4 linked regions of the Homo sapiens genome follow. The protein of the gene in region 4 purifies or fractionates together with the protein of the main gene of each other region. This does not show direct contact. Each region holds a gene or a part of one and is shown on either strand. Other genes may lie near its edges.

Region 1 (5,282 bases), on a different chromosome or scaffold from region 4:
GGCCCGCCTGATGTAAGGGTAAGTCGCTGCCAGACAAAGACTTTCCTGAACAAAATGAAAACCCAATACTGTTTGGGTTTACCACTTGGACACTGCCAAGTACAAGAAATCACATTTCAAAGTTTTGGTATTAAGGACCTTTTTGTTTGTCTCCTTTGCAATGAAATATTTTCTTGTTTTGAGAAAATAATATTGACGCCCTCTGACAAAAACTAGATTTAATATGGGTGCAAAACATGCCATAAAACTAAAACTGATCAAAGGTACAGTATTTCAACCATATACAAGAAAAATAAAGGAAAAATAATCCCACCACCACAGTGACATGGAAATAACAGATGAATGCATAAAAGAAGCTTCAGCTATTCTATTTCTAGAGCAGTTTGTTAAGGAAAAAAAGGGGGCCTGCAGGTGTTTTTATTTTACCTTTTGTACAAAAATAAGTTACTTCTCTCTGACACAAAAGCAGAGGTGTGCTGGAGTTGGCTGTACCACGTTGTTGGCCTGTGAAAGCCAAATGTTAAATTTGGAGAAAATTTGTGAGCCAGTTGTTAAACTGTTGGCAGTTTGGAATTGGCCATGGAGGGAGTATTTACACCACAGAAATCAGCAAAAACCATCAACCAGTCTCCCCTCTTCCCAGAGAGCCAGTTGTTAAACAGTTTCCAGCACAGTACTGCATGAGCAGTAATTTAAGTAATTTCTGGAAGTGGGTGAGACCACCCAGGGGAATATGTGAAGTGAAAAGAAGGCCTAGGTCAGAAGTCTGAAGAACACCAATGTTTAAGACAAACTAGAGAGAGAGAGATGGAGAGGAATTGTTAGAAAACACCCCCCAACAAGAAAGGCGACAGACCTAAAGGGGTAAGAAAGTGCTTCCATTGTCAACCTTGCCAAATGCCTCCAAGAGACTGTATTAGTTTGTTAGGGCTGCAGTCGCAGAGTACTGCAAACTAATTGGTTTGAACAACAGAAATGTATTGTCTTACAGTTTTGAAAAGCCGAAACGTTGAATTCAAGGTAGTGGCAGGGCCATACTCCCTCTCTAGGCGCAGGAAAGGATTTGTTCCAGGTCTTTCTCCTAAGTTCCCATAGCTTTTTGACTCCAACTCCATAACTCCTGTCATCACATGGTATTCTCCCTATGTGCGTGTCTGTCTCCAAATTTCTCCTTGTTATAAGGACATCAGTCATATTAGATAAGCAGCCCATCACATTCCAGTATGACCTCATCCTAACTAATAACGTCTGCAATGACCCTATTCCCAAATAAAGTCACATTCTGAGGTACTGGGGGTTAGGACTTCTAATATGGATTTCGGGGTAACCTCATTCAACCCATAACAAAGACCAAATAAGATAAAGTGTTTATTAGGTTTCCCAACAAAGGAAGGCCATTGATGATGTCGGAGAGATTGATTTTAGTGACACAATGATGGTGCCATCATGAGGGCAGAACAGGAAGAACAGGCTGCCGAGGGGAGGGAAGAAACGGGGTGGTTTCTGCAGAGGCATGTGCGAGGAGGTAATTGAGATGGGAAAGGCTTGGGGAAAGGCTTGGGGAAAGGCTTGAGGAAGAAGCCAGTAAAATGGGAGGAGTTGAAGATACAGGAGAGGGAAGAGGTGACTGATAGAGCGAAGTCCTTGGGGGTTGGGGAGGGGACGGGATTCAGGGCAGAAATGGAAGAAGCAGACTGAGATCAGAGAAAGGAGGAAAGCTGGACTTAGGCATGACATGTCTGCAGATTTGATGACAGGAGGAAAAGGAAAAGGAAGTAATTGCTCATTTTCTTTGGGAAGCAGAAGTATGGTCATGTGCTAAGAATGATAAGGTGAAGGTGGAGTCAGAGATTTTTAAAAAGTAGAGAATGTGAAAGGCAGAGAAATGGAGAGTTAAGGGTAACACTAAGGGCCAGGGAAGTCTGGAAGCTAAAAAATGTTTGGTGCAACATCAGTCTGTGTGGCTGGGAGACTGTCCACTCCCTCCTCCCGCAAGAGCTCAATAGCCCAGCTATACAGGGTGGCCACTGAGACTGGAAATGAAGCATTAAAATGGCTTATTAATATACATTAAAATTAATAAGTAATATTTTTCCATTTCCAGGTTTTTGGGCCACCCTGTAGATTCCAAAGAGAGAAAATATGGTTGGACTAAACCAGGTTTAGTATTTTAGCAGGAAGAACAATGGAACAGGGATTTGGGGTTATTATTACAAGAGTGGTTCACATGATAAATTAAGAAGCTCAAATCAGATATGGAAGAAGTAGAGAGAGGAAGAAGCTGTTCAGTGGAGGTATTTAAAAATTGTTATGATGGGTGCTATGGAGTAGAAGAGCTATGGTCTGGCTCTCAGAAAAAAAGGTGCTCTGCTTTTTAGTATTTGCCAATTTCCATGGTAAATATTCTCACCATGGCTGATTTCCAGATACCCACAGGATGTCACTGAATACAGAGTTGAGATGAAATGCATACATTTCATGAGCTGGATAAGCTGGTTCTGTTACAACTTGAGTGTAACATTATCTGTTATAAAAAAATGTGAGTGAAGAAACTGAGACAGTTTATCTAGGTGACTTGAAGTCATCTAGGATGATGGTGAGACTAGGAAGTGGAGAGGAAACTGTGAGATCAGTGCCAGTCTTCAGTTAATAAGGGGGAGTAAGTAAGAGGGGGACAGAGTGCCGTAAGCAGGAGCACTGGATGAGAGCCAGATGTGGAGATGAGGAAAACACACTGAGTCATGGCATCACCCGTAATGCACATCAGGCTAGTCTACACTGAGCGTGTAGGGAAGCTACCCGCCTTCTTTCACTCAATTTCAAAATAACCCACTGAAGCAAATGGCATTATTATCGTCATTTTACAAACAAGGAACCTGAACAAAAGGAGGTAATTTGCCCAAGGTAACAAGTCAAAAGGGACTTGAACTATAGCAGTATGGAGTTCAAACTAGTGGGCTGTCATCCAGAAGCCAGACTGGAGAACAGGAAAAGAACTGGACTATGGGAGAATATGCAGCCATTACTCAAAAGGGCTACAGGGAAGACAGTGTCATCAGAGAATAGCCAAGTTGTAGCTTGGACAAGGAGGTAGAGGAGATATTCTGTGAGGAGGACAGAGCAGGTAACCCTGCAAAGGGCTCCAGGGCACAGTGGACAGGGTTAGTGGGGAAGGCAATAATAAGAGCTCAATCAGAGGGACAGCACTTCCCAGGAGTTAGGAGACATGAGGTGTGTGATTGTCCCCAGCCCTTTGTTTCCCTTTGGCTGTGAATATTTCTGCCATCAATAGGCACATGGGGAGTCTGCACCTCTTTCCAACACTGGTTATCAAAACGTGTGTTTAACATTGATAAGTAATTTTCTAAATGTGAAAAGCAACTCTGTCTATGAAGATGCAAGAATCTAATATTGAAAGTTTTTATCAGTAAATATTTATTGAATTGGCAAAAATGGATGAACTTTGCTGAAGGAAAATAAGCAAATTGCAATGAAAAGCAAGCATGGTTGCATTATCACTGAGATTGCTGTTCGTACCACTTTTGCTCTGCAGTATTTAGGATTTCTACCACCGACTCAGCACTATACTTTTTTTTACCGTGCATTAGTGAACTATGCTTGTATACGTGTCTTAATTGAAATGCAGATCTGTACTGTCCACTACCATAGCACTAGCTACATGTGGCTACTGAACGCTTGAAATATAGTTAATCTGAGGCCGGGTGCAGTGGCTCACGCCTGTAATCCCAACACTTTGGGAGGCCGAGGTGGGCATATCACCTGAGCTCAGGAGTTTGAGATTAGCCTGGCCAACATGGTGAAACCCTGTCTCTACTAAAAATACACAATTAGCCAGGCGTGGTGGTGCATGCCTCTAGTCCCAGCTACTTGGGAGACTGAGGCAGGAGAATAACTTGAACCCGGGAGGCGGAGGTTGCAGTGAGCCGAGGTAACGCCATTGTACTCTAGCTTGGGTGACAAGAGCAAAATTGTCTCGGAAAAAAAAAAGAAAGAAAGAAATATAGTCTGAGAAGTGCTGTAAATAATACACGCCAGATTATAGAATAGACTTGGTTTGAGAAAAGGAATAATAAATACCTCATTAATATTTTTATATTGATTACATGCTGAGAAAACATTTTGGATCTATTGAACTAAATAAAATTATTAAAATTAATTTCACTTGTTTCTTTTTACCTTTTTAATATGGCTACTAGAAAATTTAAAATTACATATGACCTTGCATATGAGGCCCACATTATATTATATTTCCATTGGACAGTGTTGATTTAGGGCTGGGCTCTCTTTGGAGTTCTGCACACAGTTAGGCTTAGGAAGTATTTTGATTGGTTTCTTGATTAAGTCCCTCTGGGAAGACGACAAATTGAAAGATTTTTTCTTTCAAATTTTAGATTGCTCTATCATTGGTATTTAAGTTTTGTGTGGAGTTGGGCTGTACACAATGTATTTGCCATCATGGAGACTAGAACCACGCCAGTGACTAAGTTTGCTTAGGCCTCTTTGAAGTACCTTAGATGAAGGTTTGGGCCCTGATACTGTTACTCTCATGTGAATGCTTCTTTTCATTATATCAATCTCTCAATTCCTTTCCAAACAATCTTTTTCTACCATATCCTACTCTCTTTCCTTTAAAAAATATAATCTGCTTTCCCTTTTTATGGGCACTATTATCTCATGTGATCAGAGTCTAGTTTCAAACTGTGGCCAAGTTACTTAACCTCCCTGAGCCTCACTTTCTTCATTTTTAAAATGGGGGTGACAAAACTAGTCACTCACAGTGTTGTAGCCAAGACTAAATGGATTAATACCTAGAAGGTGCTTAGAACAGGGCCAGGCAAATGACAAGAACTGAGGAAGTGTCAGCTGTTTGTGTCCTCCTCTCTTTCCTTATTCCTTCAGCTTTCGTCTGCTCAGCTCTTGCCATCCCGCCCACACATCTTCACTTTTGAGGAACTGTAATAAATTAAACAACAGGCGTCTTACTCTCCTCTACTGTGGACCCCTACAAAGCTTAGTGTTGTCTTCTGAGATGGCTGGGCTGTTTGGGCCCTGTGCCCCTCCTGGGGAGATGGACCCTCACACTCTAATTTAGAAGCTAGGTCTTAGATGAGGAGAGGGGGTTCCTCCCTCTTTTAGGTCTTAGCAGATAACACTCTGGGTGTGCTTGTCGATGCGTCTGGGGAGCAGGTATGGCAGATGGCCTCTCCAAGCGAAGCGGGCTGGAACAGACAGCAGCCAGCCTTGGAGAGAAGCACGTATGG
Region 2 (5,282 bases), on a different chromosome or scaffold from region 4:
CCTTTCATGCTAGCTGGAACAGAAGCCAACCAGCCTCAGTGGCTGAGTTTCAGGTAAGAACACCCAGGTTCACCATTAATTCAAAAAGAATGTTTTGTTTCAACTCTTTGATGGTGGAATTCCTGGGCAGTAGCCCTTGTAGTTGGGGAAGGGACCACCTTAATACTTATTTCTCTGATGCCTATCAGGACGTGGGCCTGAAAATACTGTCCAATGCCAAAATCAAGAAGCCAGTAGATTGCAGTCACAGATCTCCAGAATACAGCACTGCTATGGGTGGTAAGCCACCTCTGTGGTCTGTGGATTCTCTGAGATGTTAACAGTCCTGGAACTCTGCAGATTTCCTCTTGCCTCCTGTTCTTGCACTGAGCCTCTAGCCCGAGAATGCTAATGGGTTGTGGGTCACAGATGCAGGACAGTTTCCCAAGTGTTCTCTCTCTGGGGAGAGCTTTTGAAGCCTGAAGCTTATGTATCCATTCCCCGGCCAAACCTCCTTGGCTATCACTTCCCTCGATGGCCTTTGTGACTAGTTAGTTCCTCTTTGGTCCTTCCTCCTTGCCTCTGACTGGATGTTCTCTGCTTCCCTCTAAATTTCTTTCTAGTAATCCCTCCATCCCAATTTATGTCACAACAAGAAGTCTCCTGTTTCCTAAAGTTTTCGTATTCTCAATTTCATCAGCAGGCGGTGGTCATCCAGAGGCTTTTGAGTCATCAACTCCTTTACATCAAGCAGAGGATTCTCAGGTCCGCCAGTACTTCCCAGAGACCTGGCTCTGGGATCTGTTTCCTATTGGGTAAGTGATGACTCAAAAGTACAGTAAAGGGCCAGGTGCATGGCTCACGCCTGTAATCCCAACACTTTGGGAGGCTTAGGAGGGAGGATCACTTGAGACCAGGAGTTCAAGACCAGCCTGGGCAACATAATGAGCTTCTGTCTCTACAAAAGAAATTAAAAAAATAGCCAGATGGTAGTTGTGTCCTACTTGGAAGGCTGAGGTGGAAGGATCACTTGAGTCTGGGAGGTGGAGGCTGCAGTGAAGCAAGATCACATTGCTTCACTCCTGCTTGGGTGACAGAGCAAAACCCTTCTCAAAATCAACAACGACAACGACAACAACAAACCCAGAAAAAAAACAGTAAGATTCTGCAATGTAGAGCCTGTAGAAAACTCAGAATCAGACGCATTCCTAATGGATCTAAATCTTAAGCAAAGAAAGCTTGATGGGGTGTGGGAATTTATTTATTTTCCGGAATTCTTTTTTTCTTTTTATTTTTAAGACAGAGTCTTGCTCTGTCACCCAGGCTGGAGTGCAGTGGCATGATTTTGGCTCACTGTAGGCCTCAACCTCCTAGGTTCAAGCAATTCTTGTGCCTCAGCCTCCCAAGTAGCTGGGACTATAGGCACATGCCACCACACCTGGCTAAGTTTTGTATTTTTAGTAGAGGCAGGGTTTTGCTATGTTGGCCAGGCTAGTCTTGAACTCCTGGCCTCAAGTGATCCACCCGCCTTGGCCTCCCAAAGTGTTGGGATTACAGGTGTGAGCCACTGCGCCCGGCCTACCTGAATTCTTCATGCATTCATATACAACCACTCAAAACAAATCCACACAATTCCACACTCACACATTGCAGGCCCTGTGTTCTCACTACAGAACCACACACATTTAAAGGTATATATTGACATCAATTTTTGCTCACTGCTTGCATATCCATTTTGACAAGCCCTGAGACCACACATCCTCAGACTCAGAGGGCACCAGCCTCTCTGTCAGATGTGCTTGCACAGAGATGCCCACCCCGACTCCCCACCATAGTCCCCCTCCTCCGTATGAGTGCAGCCTCACTCACACTGAGACTCACCTGTTCAGTTGCCTCTTTACTTCTCCCCATACAATAACAATAACAATTTTACTTCTGCAGATGAATTTGTAGCTTTTTTTTTTTGGACAGGGTCTTGCCCTGTCACCCAGGCTGGAGTGCAGTGGTGCAATCATAGCTCACTGCAGCCTCAAACTCCTGGGCTCAAGCAATCCTCCTGCCTCAGCCTCCTAAGTAGCTGGGACTATAGGCATGCACCACCACACCTGGCTAATTTTTAAATTTTTGGTAGAAATAGGGTCTTGCTATGTTTCCCAGGCTGGCCTCAAACTGCTGGGCTGAAGCTATCTGCTCACCTCAGCCTCTCAAAGAGCTGGGATTACAAGTGTAAGCCAGCACACCCCACCGAATTTGTGGCTTAATTCACAAATGTTCTCCTTGCCCCACGCTACCTCTGCCTCATGTTGGTCCTTGTGTTTTCACAGTAACTCGGGGAAGGAGGCGGTCCACGTCACAGTTCCTGACGCCATCACCGAGTGGAAGGCGATGAGTTTCTGCACTTCCCAGTCAAGAGGCTTCGGGCTTTCACCCACTGTTGGACTAACTGCTTTCAAGCCGTTCTTTGTTGACCTGACTCTCCCTTACTCAGTAGTCCGTGGGGAATCCTTTCGTCTTACTGCCACCATCTTCAATTACCTAAAGGATTGCATCAGGGTGAGAGCTGGGGATACAGGAATCAGGTGTCAGCCCTGGAATCACACCTCCCCCATAAGTTTGTCTCTAAATTGGAAGCATCCCAATTTTCCCTGGGAAAGAGAGGAGATGTCGGCGTCTCAGCCCCCAGGTTTCCCCAGGCCTCTATGCACTACCTCCTTTGTTTGTACCCTTTGTCTCTTAAACATCCTCCGTAGGTTCAGACTGACCTGGCTAAATCGCATGAGTACCAGCTAGAATCATGGGCAGATTCTCAGACCTCCAGTTGTCTCTGTGCTGATGACGCAAAAACCCACCACTGGAACATCACAGCTGTCAAATTGGGTAAGAGAGGGAAGTGGTAGACGGGCGAGGAAAGCCAGCAGCAGAAGACCAGTGACTGAGCACTCAGTCTTTTCCTCTGCCACATCTGCTTTGCTTCCTCCTCCATTTTCCACTATTTTTCTCCCTCCTAAGGCTGTTATAAGTCAATACACAAACACTCTTTGATAGGTGACCAAACAAATTTGTTCAAACCGGAATATTTTGAGTGTGAAAGGGAGAGCTTTTAATATTTATAGCTGGACAAGGAATACATGGTCATGTAACTAATCAAGGACTTACTATAAGAGTCCCTGGGCCAGGCACTATTCTAACTGCTTTACATATATTAACTCATTAAATTGATTGACTAATTAATTTTTATTTTATTTATTTATTTTTGAGAGGAAGTCTCGCTCTGTTGCGCAGGCTGGAGTGCAGTGGTGCAATCTGTGCTTACTGCAACCTCCACCTCCTGGGTTCAAGTGATTCTCCTGCCAAGCCTCCCAAGTAGCTAGGATTACAGTCGCGTGCCACCCTACCCGGCTAATTTTTGTACTTTTAGTAGAGGTGGGGTTTTGCCATGTTGGCCAGGCTGGTCTCAAACTCCTGACCTCAGGTGACCTGCCTGCCTCGGCCTCCCAAAGTGCTGGGATTACAGGCGTGAGCCGCTGCGCCTGGCCTTTTATTTTTTTTTAGAGAGACAAGATCTTACTCTGTCACCTAAGCTGGAGTACAGTGGTGTGGTCATTGCTCACTGCAGCCTCAACCTCCCAGGCTCAAGCGATCCTCTCACCTAGGCCTCCGGAGTAGCTGGGACTATAGGCTCATGCCACCACCATGCCTGGCTAATTCAGTTGGCAGAGAAGCGGTCTTGCTCTGTTGCCCAGGCTGTTCTCAAACTCCTGGGTTCAAGTGATTCTCCCGCCTCACCCTTCCAAAGTACTGGGATTACAAGAATGAGTCACTGCACCTTTAACTTGTTTAATCCTCACCCCCAACCCTATGGGATGTCAGTCACTCATAGATTAAATCCTTGCAACTCAAAGTTTGATTTTCATATGTATGAGTTATCTCATGTTGCTTGACAAATTATTGTAAAACTTAAGTGTCATAAAAGGACAAACATTATCAAACAGATTCTATGGGTCATTAATCTGGGTGCAGCTTAGCTGGGTACCTCTGGCTCAAGGTATCTCATGAGGTTGCAATCAAGCTGTCAGTCAGGACTCTGGTTTCATCTGAAGACTCGACTAGGAGAGGATTGATTTTTCAAGCTCATCCCAAAGTCTCTGATCCTTACAGGCTGCTAGACTGAAGGACACAGTTCTTGACCTCAGCTTTTGGCTAGGGGCCTCACTCAGTATCTCATCACATGAATCTCTCTGCTGGGCTGCCTCATCACACAACAGCTGTCTTCCCCAGAGCAAGCAGTTTGAGAAAAGGGGTGCACCCAAGATGGAAGCTGCAGTCTTTTTTGTAACCTAATCCCAGAAGAGTCATTACTTTCACCCTGTTCTCTTTAACAGAAGCGAGTCACTCAATCCAGCTCACACTCAATGGATGTAAATATCAGGATGCAGGGATCTCTGAGGGCCCTTAGAGGTTACCTACCACACTGGACTAGCCTCTCTGGCATCACCTGGGAGCTTGTTAGAAATGCAGAATATGGGCCCCACCCCAGGTCTATGGCAGCAGAGTTTGCACTGTTGCAAGATCCCCATTAAAGTTTCAGAAATGCTGATCCAAATGGGAATGGACCTCACTGGTACCTCTGGCAATAGGGCTAATGGCTTCCCTTCTTCTTTCTCTCAGGTCACATTAACTTTACTATTAGTACAAAGATTCTGGACAGCAATGAACCATGTGGGGGCCAGAAGGGGTTTGTTCCCCAAAAGGGCCGAAGTGACACGCTCATCAAGCCAGTTCTCGTCAAAGTGAGTTTTCTTCAGAGGTAGAGACAGCAACCAACCGAGGGATGCTCAGCATCTCGTCTTGCTGTGAGTTAGTCTCTCACAGCAACCATACTCCAGTCCAACCAGGCAGCTTCAACTTTCTCCTTCCCTGGCCCCTTGAACATTTGCCTAATCCACACCCACGGCCTATGAAAGCACCTAAAACCCGGCACCTCATAGGCACTCAACAAATGTTAGTTTACCTAATTAAAATGTCTGTCTTCATCAATAGCTGCCTTTTTCGTCCCATCATGAAGCCCATTGTCAATCTTGCCTCTTAGAAGTTGCCTAAATGTGTCTTTGGCTCTAGCACTTGCCCAGAAAGAACTTTACAGAAAGGGCCCATCCTTGGGTTGACGCAGAGTTCTTCTGAGCTTCAGTGAGAAGCTCTTGTCTGCAGTTCTGAGGGAAGCCCTGGGGGCACAGCGAGGGGCCTCCCTTCCCTTTCCTTTAGTGCCATCCCTCCTGATGTTCATCTTTGTTGTTTTTATCTGT
Region 3 (4,656 bases), on a different chromosome or scaffold from region 4:
GAGATTGCTGTGAGCCAAGATTGCGCCACTGCACTCCAGCCTGGTGTACACTGTGGTCTGTGCATACATGGATTACTATCACTCCACTCAGCAACACCTAAGGACGGAACTGCTGACATGTGCAACAGGCATGAACCTCACAAGCGTCTGTGGAAACAAGCCAGATCCACCAGTGTCCACATTCCACCATCTGACACCTATGGAGGCACAGCTCACCTACGGTGACAAAAATTAGAGCAATGATTTTGTGTAGGGGTTGTGGATAACTCAGAAGGTACAAGGGGTCCCTTTCTGGGGCCATGGGGACGTTCCATGCCTGGGCTTCAGTGGTGGTCACATGGAGGTACATTTATTAAGACTCATTGAGTAGCTTTTACTTGTATGTGCATTTTGGTGTATGTAATTTTTACCTCAATTGAGAAAGAGTACAGCGAGATAACACAACCAACAAAACATCTCACATTCAAGACTCCCAGTGCCACTCGCTGGTGTGGATGTGGAGCAGATGGGCAGAAGTGGGTGCAACCCCTTTAACAAACCGTCAGTGTCTGCTGAGTGGACACGTGGCCCAGCAATGGCAACTCCTCGGCATCTCCCCACAAAAGAATGATGCGTCCAGCAAGGGTCACCTCCCGGAGTGCTCACAGCAGCTTTACCTGGACACCGCCTGATGTCCACCGGCGGGAGAGGGGCCAGGCCGCTGCGCTTGTTCTGCCTGGAGAGCACAGGCCTGTAACCAGGCAAGACTTTGCCGTGCCAGGGCTGAGCCGCCGAGTAACGCTGAGCCACGGACCCACGCCATGTGGCTCTGTGTTCGAGGAGCTCAGGGCCGGGGTGCGCCACTCCAATGATGACTGACCAGGATATTGACCGGGCAAGGCCAGGGGCTGGGAACAGTCTGTTTGGTGGTTACATGCATGTTACACAGAAATTCGTTATGTGAACTTAGAATGTGTGTGCTCCAGTATGTTCTACTCGAGTTAAAAAGGAAAGAACAGGACGCAAGACAAGGAAAGCCCCTGCACGTGAGGACGGTGGAGGCCGGGGCGGCTGCGTGGCAGTGGGGCCACAGGGTCTGCTTCGGCCGAGGGGACCTGGGGACGGGCGCTCCAAAGAAGAGCACGTGGGAATGTGGTGGGTTCCAGCTGGGTGCTGTGGAGGGGCCAGGGCAGCCACCATGGGGTAAGAGATGGGCTAAGGGGCACCAGGCTGGCCACAGGAGCTGCGACGGGGCACTGGAGAGAACAGGGGTGGGCGGTGGGGGGAAGGGCCAGTGGCCACAGCCCGCAGGCCTCCTTAGCCCAACCCTAGACTCAGCCCAAGCCGCAGGCCCAGGCTTGCTGGTGGCTGCAGCCTGAGCCCCCACCCCCAACAGACAATGGCCCGTGGGTCCCAGGAACCAGTGTCTGATTCACCCAGCTGCAAGCCGGGGCCTCAAGACGCTGGGGCCATCACGCCTCAGGGCAGCGCCCGAGAGGAGGACTGCGGTCCGGGCAGGAGTGGCCTCCAGCCGGCTTCTCAACTCCCGGTGGCCGTGGTGCCAGAAGCTACGCATATGCCCGCCATGCTGCCCGGGCCCCGGGGAGGAGCAGAACACAACCTCGGTGTTAGAAACGCACGGCAGCCTCGGCTCACACGGAAATGAGAAATAGAAAACCATTTTATTCGCATGGTTTACATTTACAGTTTATTAGCTAGTCAACATCAACATGCAAAAATAAGCACTAACTACAAACCTCTACGATACGGTTCTCTGTCAGCTACGGTGGTTCATTTGTTTTGAAAAGTCATCAGTACTTCTTTCAACTGAACGATTAATTTCTGTAATGGATAGCAATTAGACTCTACAGTTATGGAACCATCCGGCAAGGCCTCTGCAGAAATTTGGTCCCGTGGATTTCCACGTTATACATTCTCGAAGCAGGAAGTAAGGCGGCACACAGAGGGTGTGATATCGAAACGACGCAGCTACGAACACAGCCCCGCGATGTGATATCGAAACTATGCACGTACGAACACAGTCCCGCGGACACGACCCGCGAGGCAGGCGGGCGTCCTCGAAGCCAGCCCCCGACGGTGGCGGCGCCAGGCGTTTTGGCAGCAGCTCTCGAATGAAGCCATAAGTGTCCCTCGTGGCGCGGCATCGCGGGTCACTGCAGGTCAGTCCGGTGCCGCTGCCACCTTCCCCGGCCAGGCCAGGGCCAACAGGAAGTGGTGAAGGACCAGCCCGTTCTCCAAGTCTCATCGTTCACAGAAGGAAAGAAACTGAAAACACAGGGAAATCACGGACTCCTATATTTTAAACGTTCTTAAGTTTCCCTCGGTGTTTAGGTCAGTCTTTAAAGAAGAGTTTCCTTCGCAAGTTGAAAGTACTTTTCAGAAGCATCAAATGGTTGACGTGTTACAAAATCCTACCAATCCAAATGTTTTCAAGTACAAACTTATGAAACCTTATTTTCTCTCTTCCTAAGAGTATTTATCGTTGCTCACGGATCTTTGGTCGCAAGAAACAGAAACGCCGCGGCAGGCTGGAGCGTGGGACAGGAGGAAGGCGTGGCCTCCCCGCCCACTGCAGCCCGTCCCCGAGGCGTGCGCTTCACGACGTGGGGCCTACATGATGTACACCTTCTCGGCTTGTGAGAAGTGGAAGACTTCTTTGGTTCTCGGGCACACGACTTTATCATCTTGACGGATAGAAAGCAGAGACTGAAAAATAAAACCGGGAATGCATTAAGGCAAGCGACTACAACGTACACACGGATTTCCATGGAAAATCCCCACAATGAACCACCAGGGAATGACTCATCCTCTCAGGCAAAGTTCCTTCCCGAAGGCACACCTGCCAAAGAAATCCCGGGGCCACCTCGCCTGTCCTTCCCACCCCTTCATCCATTTCGAACGAAGCTAAGGCAGGGTGGGGCGAGAGGACAGCCCTGTCCCAATGGCGACGTGTGCCAGCCTGGCCCCGCTGCCCTGCCCGCCCCACACAGCCCTGTCCCGATGGCGACGCGTGCCAGCCTGGCCCCCCGCCCTGCCCGTCCCACACAGCCCTGTCCCGATGGCGATGCGTGCCAGCCTGGCCCCCCTGCCCTGCCCGTCCCACACAGCCCTGTCCCGATGGCGATGCGTGCCAGCCTGGCCCCCCTGCCCTGCCCCCCTCACATTGTAGCCGTAGACGTAGCCGTTGGGCAGCATCATGGGCGGATTGTTCTCGTTCATCACGTCGCCAGAAATCTTGCAGACCAGGCGGGAGTTGGCACAGTGGGCCATGGGCAGGGGCTGCGCCAGCTTGTTCAGGGAGCGGCTGCACACAGGGCAGTCAGGGCTCTTGGAGCTGCCGTCCTCCTTGTAGCACTGTCTGAGCATCGGGTCAAGGAAGGGTTGGGGGCCACTCAGGGCAGCCGGGGTGAGCCCAGCCCCCTGTGGCCACTCTGCCCTGGGCTGCGTGCCCTTCTGGCTATGTGGGCGCCATGCTGACTACACGGGGCTGTCTTTCGAGGCACAGGAAGTGCTGCACTCGACAGCTAAACAGCCCCACTGAGGCCTCGGTGGAGACAAGAAGCCTGCGCCTTCTCACCCCGGCCTCCAGCACCAGGACCACAGGCACAGAGTGGCTCCGTCGCCCGCCGCCCTCTCCCCGGCCACGCAACCTCTCCAGGCAGGACAAGAGCCACCCAGCAGGGACGTTCTGCTGGCACCTAGGAACAGGCAGTGGGCAAGCACGCCAGCCCTCTCGCCCAGAGTTCCACAAAGAGGGGACAAGGGAGGGGGCCTGAGTCTCATTCATACCCCGGCACAGCCAGGTACCAGCAGCAATCGCGAAACACTCACTGCCCTCTGGGCCTGAGGCAGGTCACATGAAAGACATTCATAGGCGGGGACAGAGTCAGTTGCAGGAGGACAGTCAGTCACAGGTGGGGACAGAGTCAGTCACAGGTGGGGACAGAGTCAGTCACAGGAGAGGGCAGAGTCAGTCACAGGCAGGGGTAGAGTCAGTAAGAGGCTGAGTCACAGGCAGGACGGAGTCAGTCACAGGTGAGACAGTCACAGGGCAGGGGCAGAGTCAGTCACAGGCGAGGACAGAGTCACAGGCGGGATGGACTCAGTTGCAGGAAGGGACAGACTCAGTCGCAGGCAGGGGCAGAGTCTGTCACAGGCAGGAAGAAGTCAGTTGCAGGTGGGACAGAGTCAGTCACAGGAAGGAATCAGTCACAAACGGGACAGACTCAGTCACAGGCAGGGCCACAGTGAGTCGCAGGCAGGGACCAAGTCCGTTGCAGGCGGGAGCCGAGTGAGTCACAGGCAGGAACTCAGTGAGTCGCAGGTGGGACAGAGTCACAGGCAGGATGGAGTCAGTCACAGGCAGGGACAGAGTCACAGGCAGACAGAGTCGGTCACAGGTGGGACAGAGTCAGTCACAGGCGGGACAGAGTCAGTCACAGGCAAGGTTCTTGGTAATCACACGGGAAAACTATTCTGAATGGTAATCTGCCGGCTGCCAGAACACATCAAAATCGGGCTTTTAGATCAATGCCCATGGCGGCCTCTGAGATGATGAGAGAGGAAGCGCGCCACTTCCCAGAGTGAAGGCTGCACGACGCATCCGAGGCCCCTCAACACGGCCCCACCCCGACCATCCAGACACCACGCAAGTGC
Region 4 (4,158 bases):
TCTTCTGGGCATTGGGTTGGGAAGTGGCTAAGACAGGGTTCTTCAGGTTTAGTTGGCAAGTATATGATCACTACCAAATAATGAGATGTACAGATAGTAAATTGGCAGTTGAGAGGAGAGAAAACAATGGGCTGTGACTGTTGTGGAAAGTTTACTGGAAGAACTCAATTTAGGTCTTAAAAGAGAGATCCTTTGGATGGGAGAGGAGGGCATTGTAGGTAGAAAGAACAGTTGATGCTGAGAAGCAGGTCTAGGCAAGGCTTATTTAAGAGGAGTGTCGTTGGAGATACCAGGCTGTGTCTAAGGGTGATGTTAGGATTAATGAGAAATTAAGGAGCAAAGATAGGTTATGGCCAGTGAGTGACTTTAGAACATTATACCAGTCTTTCCGGCAGAATTTAAAATTATTTTCTGTACCTTTTCTCCTTTAAAAAGCATTTTATCTTGAATCATGCAAGTCTATAGGTAAGATTAAAAAAAAAAAAAAAAAGCGGCTGGCTCACACCTGTAATCCCAGCACTTTGGGAGGCCAAAGCGGGCGGATCACAAGGTCAAGAGATCCAGACAATCCTGGCCAATGTGGTGAAAGCCCATCTCTACTAAAAATACAAAATTTAGCTGGGCATGGTGGCGTGGGCCTGTAGTCCCAGCTACTCGGGAGGCTGAGGCAGGAGAATCTCTTGAACCTGGGAGGCAGAGGTTGCAGTGAGCTGACATCACGCCAGTGCACTCCAGCCTGGCTACAGAGCAAGACTCTGTCTCAAAAAAAAAAAAAAAACACCATTCTAAAAGCAATTCTTTTTCTATTGTCTTAAAAAAATAAATACTAGAAATATTTGACACAGCCAATTTTTTTTTTTTTTTTTTTTTTGAGACAGAGTCTTGTGCTGTCGCCAGGCTGGAGTACAGTGGCATGATCTCACAACAACCTCCACCTCCCAGGTTCAAGCGATTCTCCTGCCTCAGCCTCCTGAGTAGCTGAAACTACAGGCACATGCCACCACGCCCAGCTAATTTTTGTATTTTTAGTAGAGATGAGGTTTTACCATGTTGGCGCCAGGATGGTCTTGATCTGTTGACCTCGTGATCCACCTGCCTCGGGCTCCCGAAGTGCTGAGATTACAGGTGTGAGACACTGCGCCCGGCCACAGCACTCAAGTATTAAACTTTAGAGGAACTCATGTCCTGTGTAACATTGCTTGATAATCATTATCTCATAAAAATCATAAGCACCATTTTTTTTCTGGACCAGTGGGTCCGTTTTTTGAGGAATATGGGTACTTTTGAAAACCTGATGAAAGCTGTGGACCCTCTTCCCATAGAAAAAGATATAGCACATATACACAGAATACTACACAGTTTCAGAGGACTGGCAGATTCTGTTAAGTCCACTCATGGACTCCAAGTAGAACTGCTGCAATTGATCTGGAACATATTTTAACCAAATTCTTCAGGGAGGATTCTCATCCAGATTCATGGCCAAAACTATTTATACCCAGATTAGAGTGGAGTTGCATCTTATTTAGGGGGCTGGATTTTAAGTCAGTTTTTATGGAGATATAAGTCATGCAGTAAAATCCTTTAAGAAAAAATCGATTGCCGACGAAGTATTGTGTGTAGTCTGGTTCAGTAATGCTTGTGCACAGTAAAGCTTGAGAGTCACTTAGCTAAAGAAAACCAAAAGGAAGTCTGTATTTTGGGCATCTATACTATTTTGTCTTTAAGATATTTATCCAGTCCTTAGCAATGAAAGGGAGATGGGTATACAACTAATTGTTCCTGTTTATTTGCCTCTGTATCTATAGAACATATTAGTTTGTTAATATAACTAAGTGAGCCATGTTGGGGAAAGGTGATAGCATTGTACTTCATCGTCAGCCCAGACTTGATAGGAAGCAAAATCTAAATATTCAATTACTTATTATATATCTCCTCTTAGAAGCCCTATAGGCAACCCAAACTTAATGCATTAAAAACAAACCAAAACAAAACAAAAAAATTTCTTCCCACCTTCCCTAGGTCATGTGACTCCTATCTTCGTCATCATTAATGATGCCATTCAGTCACTGATATAAAACTGGAATTATTCTAGACTCCTCGTTAAACCTATGTATTAATTCTGCTCCCACTATCTGTTTCTTTTCCTTCTGTCATTGTCTTCAATTCTTAACACTTTCTCATGTTGTAACAGGTACCTAACACAGATCCCTACCTTTAGTTCCCTCCAGCCCATCTTTTACACCATCAGTGATTTTTCTGAAATGTAAATCTTATGTTATTCCTTAAAATTCTGTTTTTTTAGTGGCCCCTGTAGCACTCAGGATAAAGCAAGTTACTTACCTTTATAGACATCTGCCTTGTCCTCTGCCCTTTTCCTATTCAGTCTTTATTCTACTGCCAGAGTGTGAGATGTCAAACAGCCTATCTTTCCAGACATCTGGGTGAAATAACTTCCCATTTACTGTCTCATTCTCCTAGTCCTCCAGTAAACCTTCCCTGACCACTTCTCTCTACAATAGTTTTATGGTGGCATTTCTTATAATGTACAGTTACGTTTGTTGTTTCCTAGTATCTAGTGCAGACCTTGGCTACACTTGAGTTTGAATGCCTACTTTGGGCAAGGTGCTGAGAATGAGTATAGGTCCTTTATCTATAAACTGACTGCTGCTGGTTACCTTTTAATAATAATTACTCCTTGGTGGCTCACACCTGTAATCCCAGCACTTTGGGAGGCAGAGGCAGGTGGATCACTTGAGGTCAGGAGCTCAAGACCAGCCTGGCCAACATGGTGAAACCCTGTCTCTACTAAACATACAAAAATTAGCTGGGTGTGGTGGCAGGTACCTGTAATCCCAGCTACTCAGGAAGCTGAGGCAGAAGGATTGCTTGAATCTGGGAGGTGGATGTTGCAGTGAGCTGATTGCGCCACTGCACTCTAGCCTGGGTGACAGAACGAGACTCCATCTCAAACAAAATAATAATTACTCCTGCATTTCTTTAATAATTCTCAGTTCATAAACTATAAATAAGTTTATATTACATAAACTAGTTAGGCATTCTGAATTTGTAGATTATGTTTGCATCTAAAATATTTACACTTCTGGCCAGGCACGGTGGCTCATGCCTGTAATCCTAGCTCTTTGGGAGGTCAAGGCAGGTGGATCATGAGATCAGGAGATCGAGACTATCCTGGCTAACACAGTAAAACCCCATCTCTACTAAAAAAAAAAATAAAAAAATTAGCCGGGCGTGGTGGCGGGCGCCTGTAGTCCCAGCTAGTCGGGAGGCTGAGGCAGGAGAATGGCATGAACCCAGAAGGTGGAGCTTGTAGTGAGTTGAGATCGCGCCACTGCACTCCAGCCTGGGAGACAGAGCGAGACTCCGTCTCAAAAAAAGAAAAAACTAAAATGTTTATACTTCTAATTAAATCAGTCTTTTCTTTTAGGCAGTTAATAGTATCATATCTATCGTTTTTGGTACTCGAAGAATTGCCTGGGCTCACCTTGATCGTAAGTTGACAGTGCTGGACTGGCAGCAAAGTGACCGTTGGAGTTTAATGAGAGGAATATACTCATCATCAGTCTATTTAGAAGAGGTAAGGCAGTTGCACCTCCAGATTCCTACCTGCTAGAGCTCCTTGTGTAGTTTAATCTTCTGGTCCCAAAAGGAATGTAATAAAATAGTAAAGATGGGTTTTCTTCTGGTACTTGTTACTCACTTATTCCTATTATGTTTTCCATCACCTTTGATTTTTAAAAATTCAACCTTTAGTTAGTTCAAGAAATGCCTTATGCATCGAAGGCAGATACTGAGAAAATCAATGGTATTTCATTCTAAATGTTATAGAACATTATCACTCTTTTATTTATAAAGCTTATTTTTCAAAATGCCATCACATTGTCTCATTTGAGTTTTCAAAACCTTGCGAAATGGTCAGGAATTATCACCTTAATGGTCAGGAATTACCACCTTGATTATACATATGAAATCTGTGGTTCAGTCAAGCATCTGATGTGATTAGTCAGTTGCAGAGGTGATTGATTCTTGCTAGTTATTCTAACCGTATGCTCTATCCCAGAAAATGTTTGAAGGTTTAGTAAAACAGTTTTAAGTTGTCTAACCTTAAAGCCAATACATATTTTAGAAATTATGAAGTCC

Evidence for each region. Proteins that work in one complex are often made in the same cells at the same time.
Region 1: the proteins of TEFM (region 4) and HPSE purify together in Homo sapiens (affinity purification with mass spectrometry; one large-scale study listed by BioGRID and IntAct). This does not show direct contact.
Region 2: the proteins of TEFM (region 4) and A2ML1 purify together in Homo sapiens (affinity purification with mass spectrometry; one large-scale study listed by BioGRID and IntAct). This does not show direct contact.
Region 3: the proteins of TEFM (region 4) and MAEA purify together in Homo sapiens (affinity purification with mass spectrometry; one large-scale study listed by BioGRID and IntAct). This does not show direct contact.

Annotation. Positions count from the first base shown.
Region 1 is NC_000004.12:83,327,207-83,332,488, forward strand, and holds part of HPSE (heparanase isoform 1 preproprotein), read right to left. Parts: intron 1-5,282. UniProt on the Homo sapiens protein: Endoglycosidase that cleaves heparan sulfate proteoglycans (HSPGs) into heparan sulfate side chains and core proteoglycans. Participates in extracellular matrix (ECM) degradation and remodeling.
Region 2 is NC_000012.12:8,849,481-8,854,762, forward strand, and holds part of A2ML1 (alpha-2-macroglobulin-like protein 1 isoform 1 precursor), read left to right. Parts: intron 1-188; coding exon 189-279; intron 280-679; coding exon 680-794; intron 795-2,303; coding exon 2,304-2,532; intron 2,533-2,729; coding exon 2,730-2,856; intron 2,857-4,647; coding exon 4,648-4,769; intron 4,770-5,282. UniProt on the Homo sapiens protein: Is able to inhibit all four classes of proteinases by a unique 'trapping' mechanism. This protein has a peptide stretch, called the 'bait region' which contains specific cleavage sites for different proteinases.
Region 3 is NC_000004.12:1,337,124-1,341,779, reverse strand, and holds the end of MAEA (E3 ubiquitin-protein transferase MAEA), read right to left. Parts: intron 3,359-4,656; coding exon 3,163-3,358; coding exon of another isoform or gene 2,905-3,162; exon of another isoform or gene 2,713-2,904; intron 2,707-2,712; coding exon 2,611-2,706; 3' UTR 1,643-2,610; downstream 1-1,642.
Region 4 is NC_000017.11:30,899,850-30,904,007, reverse strand, and holds part of TEFM (transcription elongation factor, mitochondrial), read left to right. Parts: intron 1-3,445; coding exon 3,446-3,595; intron 3,596-4,158. UniProt on the Homo sapiens protein: Transcription elongation factor which increases mitochondrial RNA polymerase processivity. Regulates transcription of the mitochondrial genome, including genes important for the oxidative phosphorylation machinery.